Linked DNA regions of Homo sapiens: region 2 is reported to be linked to region 1. The links are microRNA targets in miRTarBase. Many come from high-throughput screens and were not tested one by one. Region 1 holds a microRNA gene; the other region holds the end of a gene's coding sequence.
What was found. Region 1 holds the annotated microRNA hsa-miR-499b-3p (AACAUCACUGCAAGUCUUAACA, at 2,230-2,251, shown strand). A microRNA usually pairs through its seed, bases 2 to 8, with sites in the 3' UTR of a target mRNA and lowers its output. Matches are read on the target gene's strand: a 7mer-m8 pairs with bases 2 to 8, a 7mer-A1 pairs with bases 2 to 7 and ends in A, and an 8mer does both.

Region 2: the mRNA of DCAF12L2 is a reported target of hsa-miR-499b-3p. Seed matches in the 3' UTR shown: 7mer-A1 at 2,413-2,419 and 7mer-m8 at 1,767-1,773.

What each region holds. Positions count from the first base shown.
Region 1 is chr20:34,989,126-34,992,656 of GRCh38, reverse strand. MIR499B (microRNA 499b) reads left to right here and starts at 2,185; the gene lies at 2,185-2,257. It overlaps MYH7B (myosin heavy chain 7B), which reads right to left. Exons shown (of 45, transcript NM_020884.7): 20 at 2,738-2,917; 21 at 2,511-2,643; 22 at 2,347-2,423; 23 at 1,832-1,919; 24 at 1,536-1,653. MIR499A (microRNA 499a) reads right to left here and starts at 2,281; the gene lies at 2,160-2,281.
Region 2 is chrX:126,161,774-126,164,773 of GRCh38, forward strand. DCAF12L2 (DDB1 and CUL4 associated factor 12 like 2) reads right to left here. Exons shown (of 1, transcript NM_001013628.3): 1 at 1,726-3,000. The coding sequence ends at 2,760. Among named protein-coding and RNA genes, the nearest start is that of DCAF12L2, 3.0 kb to the right of the region's middle.

The sequences.
Region 1 (3,531 bases):
CTCAGAAGGCAGAGGTTGCAGTGAGCCAAGATCCTGCCACTGCACTCCAGCCTGGGTGACAGAGCAAGACTCCGTCTCAAAAAAAAAAAAAAAAACACAACCTTGGGGGGATTTTAAATGCATTCATTAAGTTTTTAAAGAGGCTTTTTACAGAAGGCATGCACTATTTTTAAAATTTTTTTAAAGGCAAAAAATATTAGTAGAAGGTGACATGCTGTACCCTATCACTGAAGAAACATTTGGGGGAAAATTCTTTTTTTTTTTTTTTTTTGAGACGGAGTCTCGCTCTGTCGCCCAGGCTGGAGTGCAGTGGCACGATCTCTGCTCACTGCAAGCTCTGCCTCCCGGGTTCAGGCCATTCTCCTGCCTCAGCCTCCCGAGTAGCTGGGACTACAGGCTCCCGCCACCACGCCCGGCTAATTTTTTTATATTTTTAGTAGAGATGGGGTTTCACCGTGTTAGCCAGGATGGTCTCGATCTCCTGACCTCGTGATCCGCCTGCCTCGGCCTCCCAAAGTGCTGGGATTACAGGCGTTAGCCACCGCGCCCAGCCCATTTGGGGGGAAATTCTAATGCAAAAGAGCCAGGGCTCCCAGCCTGCCCACTTCTAAGTGGACACATGCACAGGGCTGTGTGGGTCAGGTGGGCTACAGCCACGCTGTGAAGGCCCCTCATGAGGGGGACTCATTAAACAAAGCATGCAGTCCACCAGACTGTGAGATGTTTCACAGCCAAGAAAAACGGATGACGATGGCAGGCATACGCCTGGGGATAAGGAACGATCTCCAGGCCAGACTGTTAGAAAAAACAAGGTCACAGCACCATGCGTGTGTGTGCGTGTATGGTATCTGTGTGAACCTCTGTTTACAAAGGATAGTGTGGATGACACCATGACTTCTGGAGGGAGAAGGAACGATGGATGCTTGTTGCCCATTGAGGGAACGGGGAGGAGCTGGCAGCACTGCCCAGGTGCTTGCTATGTGCCAGGTGTCTCATGAAGCCTCGTCCACATGATTCTCGTTCAACTCCCAAATCTGCATCCTTTCTGCCCGCTGCCCTGAGCTCCAGATTGATAATCCCAATCTCCCCCATGACTTTTCTAGGATGTCTGCTGGAGGCATTTCAAACCTGATACACGCAAAACAGAGCTCAAACCAGTATCCCTTCACCTCTCCTCCAAATCAAAAAACCCTGTTTTTGTAGCTCAGTAAATCTACCACTGGTAGCTCCCAGGTTGCTCACTCCCAAAACTAGAAATCATTCGTCTTTTCTGCATCCAGAATTCCATGTCCAGCTTATCAGCGAGGCCTGTAGGCTCCACCTCCACTATTTGCCCCAAGCCTATTCACTTCTCCCCAAGTCCCCGGCCAGGTCTGAGCCACCCCCATGTCTTGCTGGGATACCTGGCCAGGCCCCTCACAGTCCCTGCTTCCCCCTCCAGACAGGGGACCGTCTGTTGGGCTCTGATATGTGTGTCCTGCCCAGCCCCTCAGGCCTCCACCTGGAGCAGCAGGCAGGGGGAAGGGGTCACCCACCGCTGCCGGAAGTCGGTGTAGAGCAACCTGTTGGGGAACCCTTGGCGGCAGATCCGGATCCCCTCCAGGACCCCATTGCAGCGCAGCTGGTGTAGCACCAAGAAGGCATCCATGACCCCTGGACGTGAGAGGGGAAAAGGTCAGAGGTCAACAGGCACACCCGCAGGCCCCAGAGAAAAAGCAGCAGTGGAGACCCTGCGAGGTGAGGGGGAAGATGTACTCAGCCTCCCGGCCTCTGCCCTGTCACCTTCCCATGATGCCTCCCGGCCCCAGCCAGGCCAGCCCTGGGTGACTACCTGGGGTTTTGTTCTCGTTGGGGACAATGCAGCGGACGAAGTGGGGCTGTGTGGCCCGCAGGTTGGTCATCAGCTTGTTGAGGTTCTCCTGGCAGTGGGGAAGAGTGAGGGAAAGGCACAAAGGGGGCAGAGAACCAGAATTGGATGCCGCAGTGGTCAGGACCGAGACGGGAGCAGGGCCCTAAGTGCCCTGCACTTTTGCTCTTTCACTCTCATTCTGGTGATGGGAGACCCTTCGCTGTCTCCCATCACCACCACCAAAGTCTTCACTTCCCTGCCAAATCCCCGTCCCTCCCAGAGCCCCAGGGCTCCCACCCCTTCCCCACAAACCCTGCCCAGGCAGCGTAGGGACGGGAAGCAGCACAGACTTGCTGTGATGTTCACGTGGAGAGGAGTTAAACATCACTGCAAGTCTTAACAGCCGCCCGCCCAAGGCACAGGGGACAGGGCAGGGGGTGAAGGACGGGGCTGGAGGCTGCCAAGAGGGAGGGTCTGTCTCCCAGATGGGGCCTTACCTTGTGCAGCTGGGACACCGTCTGGAACGATGCTGCCTTCTTACGCTTCTCTTTCACCCCAGACTTGGGGGGCTCAGCTAATAGAGACAAGGGGCCTGGTCACTCCAGGGAATGTCGCTCTGTGGGCCCCTGTCAGAGTGGAGATCTTGTCCCTCCATACTCACTGGAGCAGGAGCCCGCATAATTCTCATAGAGAGTCGCCAGGAGCCTATTCTGTGACTTCTGGAAGATGGGGACCACGGTCTCATTCAGGGGATCCTTGTTTTTCTCCAGCCAGCCCACAATGCTGTAAGGCACCTGGAGAGACAAGTCAGGTGCTGAGCCCGGGTGGGAGACCTGGAGCAGGGCGGGAGGAGCCTGGCCGAGGGCTGGGGTTCCAGCAAGCACCTACCACGCCTGCGTAGTGGACCACCTCGAAGTGGGCCTGGTACTTGCGCTTCTTGTCAGGCCGAGGCTGCTGGAAATTGGGTGACTTCCCCGCGTGGTTGTCGTAGAGCTTGGCCCGGAAGCTGGCGTCTGAGGCCTTGGGGAACATGCATTCCTCCTCCAGGATGGACAGGATGCCCAGTGGCTGGGAACAGAACGAGCTTGAAAAGCCACCATCAAGCCAGTCCATCCTGGAAGGACTGAACCCCTGGTTCCCCAGGCCACCTCCCTTCTGGGAGCCTTCCCAGATCCCCAGCTTCAGCCATCTCCCCGGATGGTCAGACACCACACCCACTCCAAGAACCCATCTCCTAACAGAGAAAAGTTTGTGGCTTGGCTCCAGTCCCCTCCTGCAAAATCTGCAGCACTGAGGTGTCATCTTCACTTCTAACAATGGCAAACCCAAGCTGGCATCTCTGTACCCACTCTCACCCCCGCCACAGCCATGGCTGTCACACACAAACATGGGGTAAGTCAAAAAAAGCCATCAAGTTCACATTTTGGCTTCCTCACTCACTAGCTGTGGGGCCCTCCGACATCACTAAGCCTCAGTCTTCTAACCTGCAGAGTGGGAAGATGAATGTCTTCAGTGCTGACATAATATTTAAAAAGCTGTCAATCACCTAAACGCCCAGCTGTAGGGGACTGCAGAAATGCATCGTATGAAACTCATCCACTGCATGAACTACTCTTGCCATGAGCAGCATTCAAAATACATTTTCAGAGAAAAAGTAGGATATGAAATGAAATCTGTGTCTA
Region 2 (3,000 bases), not on the chromosome of region 1:
CTTCCCAGAAGTGAGAAATTGCATCCTGGGGTACACAGCCAATTCTTCACTGGGTATGTTCTCCTGATGTCACAGAGGCACCTCAAATTCAGTAAGTCCCAAGTTAAACTGATCATCCTCCCCCATACTATCTATGCCTATTTTCTTTATTTTTATTTGCTGTCAATATTCATTCACATTCAAGTCAGAGCCTGAGAGTCCACCTAATTTTTTTGGTTTTCCTCATCTTTCACATGAAATACTGTTTGTTCCTTTTATTTCCCCTCATTGTTTTGAATAACTTTCTCCCTCTCCACACTTACCCCACTATCCTAGTTCAGATTTTCGTGGTCTCCTTCTTGGATTTTCTTCAGTGACATCTCATACGTTGGGTATAACTTAAACTGGGTGCAACAGACCAGGGAAACCTACTAGGTCCAGCTAAGTATATAAGGAAAGTAGCTGTGTGTAATCCATTTCCAGGTACATGAGCCTGAATGGTGGGTACTCTCTTCCTTTAGCGTGGCAGCATTTTTACTGCTTGCCTTCATTTTCTTGTTCTTTGTTTCAGAACCCACTTGGTACTCTGACAACAAATTGAATTAACTCAGCCACAGTGGCTTAGAAAGAAAGGATCAAGATCAAGTAGATGTAAGATTGGCAAAGAGCACAGTTTGGTGACACACTGTTGGCATGGGTGTGGTAAAGCAGGTGTGCATCCATTACTTGTAGGAGGTTAAGGTGGTGAGAACTCCTTGGAAGATGATTTAGCAATGGCTATTAATATAAAATGAACTTACTCATTGAACCAGTAATTTCATTTCTCGGAATTATCCTGCAGATATATTTATGCTTGTACACAAAGATGTATACACTTAAGTAATCACTGCAGAATAGTTTACAGTAACAGAAAACCAGAACCAACATAAATGATCATCAAAGGTGTAATGAATAAGTCAAGTGTATTCCAATCACACAATAGAACAGCATGCAATAAAATTAAGTAGATAAGTATAAGAAAAAATCACTAAGATTTTGTGATTAAAAAGGCACAGATACATACAGTATGTTATTATTTGTATAAAAATTCCATACACACATACATGTGTTCTTGTATATATATAGACTAAATCTAAATATGTATATGCAAAAAATATACTAGTGCTAATCTATGGGCTGGAAACTAGAGACCCCGGGGTTTGAGATTTACTTTTAACTGTATACTTTTTATACTGTATGGTTTTTTGATCATGTGCTTGTATTAAAATTATTTTAAATTGGCATAAAACAAAACACAAATAAAGACCAAGTGGTAAGTCTTAATATGTGTAGTTCAATATATAAGAAATAGCTGCACATATAAAATGATATATATCTATGCTTTCTTCTCACATGGGAAGTAACATATACAAACAGATATACAAATATATTATATATGTAAGTAGTTATAAGTACATGTATATTTGTATAAATGAAAAATGGTTTGTTCAGTCAACTTTAAAAAACACTTAGCCATCCTAACTTACACCAAGTATATTTTCATAACGTATTCAAGATGTTGTTTAATCTTTTAACTTATAAGTTTCATTTTCAAAAAGAGATGTACAAAGTAATGTCTGCATAGCTAATGCTTCAGATTCAGCTTCTGTCCTGGAAAGTTTTGACTTTGATAAATACGTTCTCAGAAAGACAAATGAAAAAAGAAAGCATATATTTAAGTATTAAGAACTTAAGTCTGCCACTTAATTGCTAAGATGATGAACACATTTTATTTATTTTTCTGCAACACATCACATACTGGATCCAGAATTATCCATGTATACAGTAATAAAAAATCAACACCTACTCTGAGCACAACTGCCACAACTGGCTTTTCACTGTAAATAGCTACCTGAATTTAAAGAGATGTGTACCCCATATACCCCCAAAAATACCTCCCTGATTGCACTACCACATATATAGACCAGAATTGAGTAGTTCTGAAAATCTGTAGCATAGAAAAGCAGGCCATAATACAGCGGCTTTAAATAAGAACACGGAGGGCCTGAGGATAGTAAAGTTTTACTGAATAACCAAAAATGTTGATTAATAGTATGAACAACATTGTAAGATTTCTAACTAACAGAACATATTTTTAAAGCATTTTACACATCAACACTATACAAACAACAGACATTGAGTTTCCAACATCCAAATGAATCACGCCCTAGAATGGTGTGTGCCACACTCTAGAATGGTGGCAATCTAGAACCTGAACTGCATTTTGTAATTAGAGTAAGGCTATAAATGATGGGTAGTTCCTCAAAACAACCCCAAAGATGCTTTGTAGCTCACATTTCCCCAAAACACCACACATCTAACATGTGTAAAAGATCTGAACACTATTGCAATATTGATAAAACTAACGTACTGAATAGTAGTGAAGACTATGACTACATCAACCTAAAGAAGGAGGGTATGTGAATCACTGAAAGACAGAACACAATTAAGGTTTAGCCAAAACTCTTTGAATGAGAAGGCAAAAATATACTGCTGTTGGGAAACGTGAATGAGAGTTTTAAAGCCAAAGTTTTGACTGCCGAAAGGACCACTTGTGCTCTCTCGCTCCCGCTCTCTCTCTTTCTTTCTCTGCCTAATACATTAAGCACACGTAAGTTGGACTGGTTCCACCTGGAAGACAAAAGCCACACAAAGTTAAAAGCACAAATGCAGCATGAAGAAGGAAAGTCAGGCGGAACTGAAAGGTAAACCTGTGCACTTTGAGAACAAGGCGTCCATCCTTAACTCCAGAGGCCTGCGTAGTTCCCATGGAGGCCTGAAGGGAGAGGCCCCCCAGCCACAAAGAGCTTCATCTCCGGCCAGTTGTAGCAGTGGGTGTAGAGCGCATTGGGGAACTCTCCCATGCCACCAAAGTAGTTCACCCAGACGTCATCTTGGTTGAGCCAGCCTCTGCCGCAGGCAAGCTTGAGCTTCCTCCCTGCGGGCCCCGGCATGGAGTCCAGGCTGGAAGAGGCCCTCTCC